Linked DNA regions of Homo sapiens. The protein of the gene in region 1 interacts with the protein of each later gene in a pairwise test. Each region holds a gene or a part of one and is shown in the gene's direction. Other genes may lie near its edges.

What was found.
Region 2: the proteins of INF2 (region 1) and BDKRB2 interact in a two-hybrid assay, tested with the Homo sapiens proteins (one large-scale study listed by BioGRID and IntAct).
Region 3: the proteins of INF2 (region 1) and UBE2R2 interact in a two-hybrid assay, tested with the Homo sapiens proteins (one large-scale study listed by BioGRID and IntAct).

What each region holds. Positions count from the first base shown.
Region 1 is NC_000014.9:104,699,546-104,703,196, forward strand, and holds part of INF2 (inverted formin-2), read left to right. Parts: intron 1-1,811; 5' UTR 1,812-1,820; coding exon 1,821-2,211; intron 2,212-3,559; coding exon 3,560-3,651.
Region 2 is NC_000014.9:96,211,308-96,214,958, forward strand, and holds part of BDKRB2 (B2 bradykinin receptor), read left to right. Parts: intron 1-3,651. UniProt on the Homo sapiens protein: Receptor for bradykinin. It is associated with G proteins that activate a phosphatidylinositol-calcium second messenger system.
Region 3 is NC_000009.12:33,918,009-33,920,899, forward strand, and holds the end of UBE2R2 (ubiquitin-conjugating enzyme E2 R2), read left to right. Parts: 3' UTR 1-2,391; downstream 2,392-2,891. UniProt on the Homo sapiens protein: E2 ubiquitin-conjugating enzyme that accepts ubiquitin from an E1 ubiquitin-activating protein, and catalyzes its covalent attachment to other proteins by an E3 ubiquitin-protein ligase complex.

The sequences.
Region 1 (3,651 bases):
GACAGGGCCCAGAGTGGGTGGGCAGAGGTGGCCGGAAGGTCTTGCGCATCTGGGTGAGTGGACGGCCACTGGGTGACCAAGAGGGCCGGGCCTGGGAGGGTGGCTTAAAACCACAGTGCACCGGGGGCTCCGGGCTCTCCGTTCTACAGTGCCCAGACCAGGACCCCCTGCAGGGAGGAGGGGCATCCCAAGGACAGCCTCTCAGGATGCTCCTGGCAGCCTGGTGCTGGAGGTGCAGAAGAAGAAACTGAGGCCCAGGCAGGATGAGTGACTGGGCCAAGGTCTGCTGGTGAGGGCCCGGGCTGGGGACATGCAGATCAGAACCCTGGCTTACACCTGTCAGGCTGCCTCCTGGAAGGAGCCCACTGGCCCCCTGGGGCAGTTGGACAGGTGGAGGGCTGAGGGGCGGTGCGGGGAGTAGGGGCTGGACTGCCGGAAACACCAGGCTTGGTCGTGGACCAGGCTGGGGAGTGGGCCTGAGACCTCAAGGGCAGGTGCTCCAGGACACTCTCCCAAGGCAGGAGGGGAGGAATAGAGCCTCCTGGGGAGGCAGGCGCTTGGGTGCTCGACCCCGCTCAGCTCCCGTGACCTCAAATGCCCTTCAGCCTGGGGTCCCCTGACTTACCGGGTTGGGCAGCACTTGAAGCAAAGCCATGTGGGACCTCCAGTCACAGCCCAGCCGTGCCCAGGTGTGGGACTGTGGGCACAGACCCAGCTTCTCTAGGACCCAGCCGCCTCCAGTTCCCCACCTGTTGTGGGAGGTATAAAGTGCCTGCCTTGGAGGTGGTGGGAAGCCGAGGGCCAGGGTGGAGAGTGCTGGGCCGGGGTGGAGGCTCAGAGCGTGTCCCTGCCAGGCCCGGCCCCCTAGCTCCCTCCCCGAGGCTCCACGCTGCTGTTCTCAGACGCTAAATATAAGATCTAAGCCATACATGGTTGCAGGAGGGCCTGGGATGCCCCTGACCTTCGAGGCCAGTTCCCAGGGTCTGTGGTTGGGGACAGCGGCTGGGGGGATGTGGTGGCGTGGAGCTGATGTCAGAGGTGCAACCCGCCTGTCCTGCTGTTCTGTTTTGGGGAAAGGCACGTGTTGGGGCTCTTCTGGGCTGGGCCTGTTACCTACCCGGGTGTTCCCAGGGCTGGAGTCAGACCTGTTGCGACTGAATCCTGGTAAAACCCTGAGTGCCAAGGGTTTCCGTCTTCCTGTTGGTGTGGGCCCCCTACCCACATGCAGACGGGCAGACTGAGGCCCAGGGGAGACCTGGGAGTCGCCCCTCCTCCCCAGCCACGCTGCTGACGCTGTGGGCACCCCAGGCATGCCTGAGGTTTGGAATCTCCCTGTCCATATTGTCCACTGGGGCGGGGGAAGTGCCCTGGGGTGAGATAAGGCAGCCTCAGATGCGCCGTTTTGTCGCATCATTACCGTGGGTAATGTTCCAGCCAGGGGAGCCTCCCGCTCCCCCGAGTCCTCCCCAAGCTCATCCGGTCCCGTCACTCTGCAGGGGCCGTGCTGGCCTCGTGCTGCAGGTTTCTGAGCCGGCTCCTCCCCTCCCAGCCCTGAGCCTCGGGGTCCTCATGCGCGCAGTAGGGCCCTTCCTGCCTGCCGCCTCGGTTGCTGAAATTCGGTCAGGGATGGGTACAGGGAAGCCTAAGATATAGTGGGGGACACAGTGCTACCCCTAACCCTCAGCATGGCACGTGAGCAGGAATTGCAGCAGAGAAACTGAGACCGAGGGAAGTGGCCCCGCCTGCGCTGGTGGCCAGGAGGACAGCCCCCATCCCCTCCCCGCTGACGGCTCCCTGCCCTCTGCCTGCAGCTCGGCAAGATGTCGGTGAAGGAGGGCGCACAGCGCAAGTGGGCAGCGCTGAAGGAGAAGCTGGGGCCACAGGATTCGGACCCCACGGAGGCCAACCTGGAGAGCGCGGACCCCGAGCTGTGCATCCGGCTGCTCCAGATGCCCTCTGTGGTCAACTACTCCGGCCTGCGCAAGCGCCTGGAGGGCAGCGACGGCGGCTGGATGGTGCAGTTCCTGGAGCAGAGCGGCCTGGACCTGCTGCTGGAGGCGCTGGCGCGGCTGTCGGGCCGCGGCGTTGCACGTATCTCCGACGCCCTGCTGCAGCTCACCTGCGTCAGCTGCGTGCGCGCCGTCATGAACTCGCGGCAGGGCATCGAGTACATCCTCAGCAACCAGGGCTACGTGCGCCAGCTCTCCCAGGGTGAGCCGCAGTGTGGGAGGGCCGCCCAGGCGGACGCTGGGGACCTGGTATGAGGCTTCAGGCCCAAAAGGCCCCGGGAGGCCTGGGGAACCACCAGGAGGAAGCGCAGCCAGGCAGGCAAGGAGGGCTTCCTGGAGGAGGACTGGCTTCCTGGGCTCAGGAAAAACATCCACATTCACTCCGAGTCTGAGGCTTCCAGGTCACCCCAGTCCCCGCACTGCTGCACCAGCGGTCCCCCTGTGCCCCTCTCTGTTGTGTGGCTCTGCCCCACCCTTCCTCCCCGTCCTGTGCTGGCTCCCACCCTCTGGGCTCTCTGCCCTCGTCCACACCTCGGCGGCAGGAGTCACTGAGTCAGAGATGCGAATCCACCCGAGTGGCTCCCTACATACACCTGCCTAGCTCCAAGCCCTTCAGCCTCAGCCCAGACAGAGCCCTTGAGGTCTGGCCCACACCTACTGATGGTGTCACCCTCCACCTCCCAGCGCCTTCCCTAGCGCCTCCCTCCCCGCCCTGTCCCCTACTCCAGCACCCAGGGGACTCGTTCCCGGCAGGCAGGCAGGCCCTTGGTCTCTGCCTCTGCTCGTGTTTTCTGCCTTTGCGTCCTCCAAGGTCCTGCGCCGCTAAGCCTTTAAGCCCCAGCTCACTTTCCTGTCCTCCAGGAAGTCTCCCCAGGCTGTGCCCAAAGTTAGTCCCGGTCCCTTGAGAGAAACCCTTGCTGTGCCACTCCATGGCTGCTGCCAGGTCCTACCGATGCTTGGGGACGAGCTAGGGTGGGCAGTGATGGGCGGGGCTGGGCCCATGGGGGCGGCAGTTACCTGTGCAGGCAAGCAAGCCAGAGGCGCCTCGTTTCTGTCGGACCCAGGGGACAGAGGCAGGTGTAGGGGCCAGCCATTCTCAGCCCGTCTCCCCAGCCTGGGCCTGGCAGGGCCCCTCTATGGAGTCTTTTGTGAATTGTTCTCAGCAGGGTCAGATGAGAGACACCCCCAGAACTTTCACAGCTCCAGATGGGGTGGGAGGCAGGGGTTCATAGGAATGAGGTTGTGTCTGCCATAAACACAGTAAGTGCTGCATTGGGAGAAAAGCTGGGCCCAGAGCCAGTGACAGGATGGGGCAGCTGCCTCCAAGCCCTTCCCTGCAGGGTCTGGCCCTGTGGTCCAGGAGCAGGGCCAGGACACCGAGGAGTGGGGCACCTCGTTGGGTCCCAGCCCACTGCTGTGGGCCACAGACAAGTGCCCGGCACCCCCTGGCGTCTGCCTGCCAGGCCCAGAGCCCCAGCCCTGAGCCCAGCTGCACAGGCATGGGAAGGGGTGCATTGGCCCTGCTGAGCCTGCCCACTCCACCCTGGCAGCCCTGGACACATCCAACGTGATGGTGAAGAAGCAGGTGTTTGAGCTACTGGCTGCCCTGTGCATCTACTCTCCCGAGGGCCACGTGCTGACC
Region 2 (3,651 bases), 8.5 Mb from region 1:
GAGATTGCACCTTGTGCATGCGCTGCTGCACCTGGGGTACATCACCCCCACTCTGGAGCCCACTGGCCGGTTAGCAAAGTGAGAGGTGAGAGAAGGACCTCTTGGTCTTCTTTGAACAGAAAGATCCAGAAAGCAATGGCTAGAACACAAGAACAGGTCAGGGGAGGCAGGAGAGGGTCTGCACACCTGCTACAGGTGTGCTCACACGTGGGCCAGGGCCTGCAGATGAGGGATCTGTGCTGATCATTTGTGATAGCCAAAAGTAGTGAAAACCTGGGGGGACTCCTCAAATGAACTGTAGCACATTGGGGAGATGGACTCTGTGAAGATGATTCCTCTCTCCACCCACTTCCCTTCTCCCTCCTCCTCCCGCTCCTCCTTTTTCGGAAGCCAGGCACAGGGATTGAATCCCACCCCATTCCTCCCCTGCTGTGTGACCTAGGGCAAGAGATGTGGTCTCTGGGATCCTTCGGTTCCTTCAGCTATAAATAGTAGTAGAATTGCAAACTACCTACGAAAACTGGGAACTCCCTGCGAAGGCCGGTGCATTACAGGGCAGTCCTACTCTGAAATACTGTGAGGCTATTGAAAAGCAAGGTGGGTCGACAGATTGTTAAATGCAAAGAGGTGAGGACACAGCCGGCGGTGCATTTAGGGTGCTTCTGCAGGCGTCCTTATACATGGATATGTGCACATCTGCTCCTGAAAGCTCAGAAGATGTCTGGAAAGCAACAGGAGACACCAGTGAGCCTGGCTGTCTCTTGAGGCAACAGGCAGGGACAGAATCTGGAGGGAGACCTACCCCTCACTGTATTCTTTTTCGCACTCTGAAATGTTACCATGAGGATGCATATCTCTTTGCAAAAATTTAAATATAAAAAGCAAAACAAACTTGAATAGAAATAAACTACTTGAAAATTTTAGAAAACACTGTTACATCAAAGAGACAGATCATCAAAACTGAAATTATAGATATTTGAGAAACAACTAACTATAAGAACACTGCTTACCAAACTTATGGGATGCAGCCAAAGCCATAGTCAGGGGATGAGTCATGCCTTTAAATTTTTAAATTATTAAACCAAAAAGATTGCAAAAAAAAACTGTTCAATTCAATAAACTAGATAATAATGATCCAAAAAAGTAGAAGAAAGAAAAGAATTACAAAAACAAAATGACAAGTTAGAAAGGTAAAAAGCATTAATGTCAGTAGGCCATCTAAGGATGGCTCTTTGAAGAGCAGACAGGAGAAGGGCAATCCCAGGAAGTGCTATGTGCTATGCAGAGAATTAGAATAAGTTGATGGCAGAGATCAGTGGGTGGCGGCTCACTTGGGTGGTAAAGAGTAGCCTGCAGCCAAAGTTGGGCACAGCAGTGCAGTCTTCACTGGGGGAATGCCTGGGAAACAAGATTTGCCTGGGTAGGAGTTTCCATCAGCACCCCCAGAAAGGTCTCCTTTCTACCCTGGCCCCCAGTTCTTTGATGGGTTTTGCTGATGCTCCTGTGTCTCTGAACAGCAGGCGCCTCACCTATAGAAAGGTAGGATAGCAGGAGTTAACGCCCCCTCCCCCATTCCATGGCCCCTGCCTGGGATTCTACCATCTCTGCTTCATATGCTTTATAGGAGTTCGGTCTGAGCCCACAACCCAAACAGGCTCACAGATGTGCTAGCTATTTCGCCACCAGTATTTTTTTAATAGTCAATATTTAGAAATTGGCACCAACTGGCCCGATTGTTCAACAGTCCTGGGTTAGGTTACTAGGCCAATTACTTGCTGAGTAACCCAGGACAGGTCACTGACCTCTCCGAACCTCTCCTTTCTCACCTGTGTGATAAAGACTACTGCTGTGCCAACACAATAGGACTGTGTATGAAAGTACCCAGACTGTGCCTAGACTCAGGAAGCTGGTTTATTCCTTCCTCCCCTAACCACTTACTGAGAGACTGCTCAGGGCTCCCCTCAGCTCAGAGATCTTTCCCCACAAGGAGCTGAGAGCCTGGTGGGAGAGACAGGCAGAGACCCAAGTGGTTCTAACACAGCTCTCTGAATCTGTAACCCCAAGTCCCATCCCCAGAGGACACTGGGACAGTCACACTGATGGTTTGTCCCTAAGCCTCCAGCATCAGGAGCCATGTGGCAGGATCTCCACTCTTCTTCTTCCTGGGCCTCTGTCTGGACCGACCCAAACACACACACACACACACACACACACACACACACACACGTGTACACACACAAGTTGCTTCTTTGCTGCCTGCATGTCCTCACACCAGCTTATGACACACCTACAATGTTTGATGTGTCATTGTGGGCAGGTTTCAAGTTGGAGGACCTAGACCTAGGTAAAGTAGAGGGTCTCCCTAAGTAAGGGAGGGTGCACAGTGGAGAGAAAGGGTAGGGGAGACTGCCCAGTGCCATTGACATATGCCTGAGCCCCAGGGCACCCTTGGCCCCCCAAAACAATCACAAGTATCCCCCCCGACAAACCTGCCAAGTAGGCATTGTGTCTCCACTTGACAGTTGAGGAAATGGTCCCTAGAGGGGAGACAGAGCTAGCTAGAGACTGGGCTGGCCCTGGAGCCTGGCCTGGGTCTTCCCATCGCATCCTGCCTCCCTACATAAGCAAAGGTCGAGAGGTGGGAACTCCCAAAGATGCTCAGGCAGGGCCAGGGGAGACCAGTGGGGCAGGGAGGGGACAGGAGGGGAAGGAGGAGCTGGGGCTGGAGAGATGGGTAGGAGCATGAGTCCCTTGCCTGGGCCTCCCCATGGTGGGCGGTGATCCAAAAGCCCCAGTCAGAGCCCTCTGCCCTGTGACGGGGGCACCCTGCATGTCCCCTCACTCCCTGCCCTCCAGTCCCCGCCAGTCCTCATGTTTTCCATGAGGATGAGTACAGCCGCAGGGACTTTCCCTGCAAGTGGTCTGGGCCATATCTTCCGGGAGTCTGTTTGGACTGTGGTGTCTGTGGCTGAGGGGGTGGAGGTGAGGGCACCCAGGCCCATCACTTGACAGAACAATCTGTGGATTTGGGGGAAAGAGGAGGCGACTGTCATTCCTGAGAGAGGACGGGAACCAACAGGAAGGATTCCTGAGTGCCAGGGATGACCACACTGGATCCTCACAACAGCCCTCCTGCCGGGGACAATGCTCCTTATCCCACAAGCGGGGACCTGGGCTCTGACAGGAGGCCACACACTTACAGTCCCTCCCTTAGTGACCGGCAGAGCTGGGATTTGAACACCCCTGGTGAGACTCCCTCGTCCAGACCCCTTCGTTGTACAGCAGGTTTGCCTCACATGCCAGAGTCGGGGTGGCCTCAGGGCACAGCCAGGAGATGTCCCCAAATCCCGAAATGTGGTTTGAGTCCCAGTCCCTCATCTCTCCAGCCTCCAAGCCCTCACCTATGCAATGGTGCCTTGCCCGGCTCACAGGTTATGAAAAGGGGTGAGACGAGACAGTGTCCCCTAAATACATCTGACAGCACTTTTGAATGGAAAAGAGAAAAAGAAAATACTATAAGCATCCAGATTGACTGGAGGTTGGGGAGTTGGTGGGGGCGGGGACAGGCAATCCATAAAGCAAGAAAAATCAGGCTGGGTTCAGGCTTTTCTGCAGCAGCGAATGCATCAGAGCTGCCAGGGGGGCAGCTGT
Region 3 (2,891 bases), on another chromosome or scaffold:
TTTATTTTAAAGGCAGGGTTATTTCCCCCCAGGGAGTGGGGCAAGCGGGGAAGTTGGGATGAGTGCGTGTGGGAGCAAAGAGTTAAAAATCACTATGCTAAGTTTGGTTGATGCTACTGGGGGGAAAAAGTTGAAACTACTGGTGACCACTGTTGGGAGAGGAAACATCTGTTTTATAGATTTAGCATGGCCTTCCCATCAAAAATACACTCGTACCATGACGTTTTGTTTTTGTTTTTTAAGTAGCCACTTTTAATTACTCAGTATTAATCCTAGGTGCATGTGTTAAGATTTCGGTTTTCATCGAGCTGCTTATACTGATAGTGAAAAACTTGGATGTGTGTGAGACGAGTTACCGCCTTCTTCATTGGATGTGATCTGAACTTTTTTTCTCCTTTCAACATACTTAGGCTGTGGAGTGCAAGCAGAATTATGCATAGAAATTGTGGCAGGGCTGAGGGAGTTGACTGCAGGCAGTTTTTAGGCCAGATAAGGCTAGATCTTCCTGCAATGCACTTGCTGCAGCTTTGATTTTCCAGATCTCAATCGTGTTGCTTCAATCAATATTGAGATCCAGCAGCCTTCACCATCCAGGAGACTTCAGAACTTGAAGGTAATTTTTGGTTGTTATGGGGGTGCACCAGATCATAGGAGGGCATTATTTGGAGGAAACCGCTATAATGTAAAATCAGATTTCAGAAGGAAAATGCAGCAAGGACTGACTGTAGTCCTATTTCAGACCCCTGGGCACTAGTGTCAACTCCTCCTTTGGCTCGTAACTCAGAAAGAACCAAAGGGCAGATTAGGGACGGGGCAGGAGGGATCCTAGGATGGCCAGAGTAGGTGACGCTTACTTCCTTAGCTCCTCCTTCCATTCTGATCTCAGGGTTTTCACTCTTCAAACTCCCAAACACATGACTTCTTCCCAGCAGCCCTTCCCGGCCTCTAAAGTTTGGTCCCAGCAGCCCTTCCCAGCCTCTAAAGTTTGGTCTGGTATGAAATGGGACTGTTTAACAAGCAAGGCTCTTAGGGGACACTGTTGAGCCTGGTCCCAGAATCTGTGATCTCCACAGGGCCAGGGTTGCTACTTGCACCCAGAATCTAGTGATTTTAGTCAGATCCATGGAACAGAGCAGCTTCGTAATACATTGTCAAGTTACCTGATTACAAACTCTCATAGATGTTGGAACTACCTTTTTACTCCCCATACTTTGTAAGTAATGCTTCCAGATTAACCTGCAAATCTTGTGGAGCCAAAGCCTCTCACAGTGCTGATTTACCTCCCCCAAAATGCCCCCAAACCCCCATGCAAGTTTACAGCCAGTAGCTTGGTCTTATTCTCTTGGAGCCCTAAAATTAAGCCTTTCATTCCCCTTTGCTAAAGCATCTCACTCCCAGGGCAGCCCCAGCACCCTGGCATTGCGGGAGGTGCTCTGCTGCACAGCTGTTCCATCAGGCCCTATTGGCCTCTGTTAGACATTGACTCAGGGAGCCGGAGCGCCAAGTGGAGGTTGTACCTTTCAGCCCTTTGGGGTGTTAAAAGTGTCAAGGGCTGGGTTTGCCTCTGATGAGTACAATCAGTTCCAGAAGACTGGGTAAGTCTCTTGCTAGCAGGTGGACATTCTGGTATTTTAGACTGACTGAACGAAACCCAGAGGCTGGTTCCAGAGCTCTGTCCCTGAGAACACATCCCTGTGGAAAATACTTGAGTTTGTAATTTTTTTTCCCCCTTCTGGGAGTGGAGGTCTCAGGCTCAATCCGGAACCATGTACGTACAGTTTTGCTTATTATTTGATGTGACATGAACTCAAAATCCTGCATTTTTAGATTCCTTTTAGTTCTAATTGAGGCCTCACTAGATGCTCTTCAGTTCTGTGTATTTTGAGGCTGGGTGGAGAAGTATATGATTCTGCTGTTGATTCTTTCAGTCTTCCCCCCTTCTCCTTTTATCAATCATTCCAGAGTTATTTTCTATTAGTCAAACTTTTTTGTAGAACCTTCTTTCCCTTACCCTGGCAAATTGCTTCTTTACTTGCTGGTTTCCTTACGTTTGGGGCACATGTTGTAAGAAACTGATTGGAAGGGGAAATGTGCAGCTCTCCACTGGAAAGGAACTCTCCACCCCTCCCATCCTGATAAAACAAACAAGGTTTACATTTACAACTAAAAGGATTCAGATGCAATTTTCAACTATTCTGAAACCAGCAGGACACACCTGACTTTAATAGTTTTAGCTGAAATTGTAGATGTTTTGCTTCAGTTTAACTTATGAGAAAAGATTATCTGACGGATTTTGTGTTGACTTCCCCTTTAGTGGTTTATTTTGTCTTTTTCTGCCCATCTGTCTACTAATAAAATGTGAAATAAAATACCTGTATTGCTACTTCCCCATGAAATGACCCTCTTCTTTTTTTACCTTGTGTTAAAGAAAACTAAAAGGTGGTCTCATTATCACTGTTAAGTTTGCAGATTACGCTGGGGCTCAGCTGAAAAATTAGACAAAAACCAAAACTGGGGAATCTGCCTTTCTAACTAACTCACCTCCCTGGTGTATCCCCAGTCCCTTCAAGCTCCTTATAGACGTAGCCATTTGTTAAACTTGATTCTGAAAACGGGAGCTGATACAAGTAGGTCAGTGAAGGATTGAGGGGTGCTCTGCTGCTTTCCTTAGGCAAACATTTTCACTGTCATTTGTTTTCCTAACTTACTGCTGCTAATAGCAGGGATCAGGCAGATCACCCTATTTAATAAAAGTCCTAATTTTACCTGTAGACACTTACCTTTTTTCTAGGTAAGGTCCCAAGCTGTGGGTTAATAGGAGTATCGGTCCCATCTGATGACAGGACCATCGCTCTCAATTGTAGAGGCCAAAAGCAGAAAAAGTAGATTGT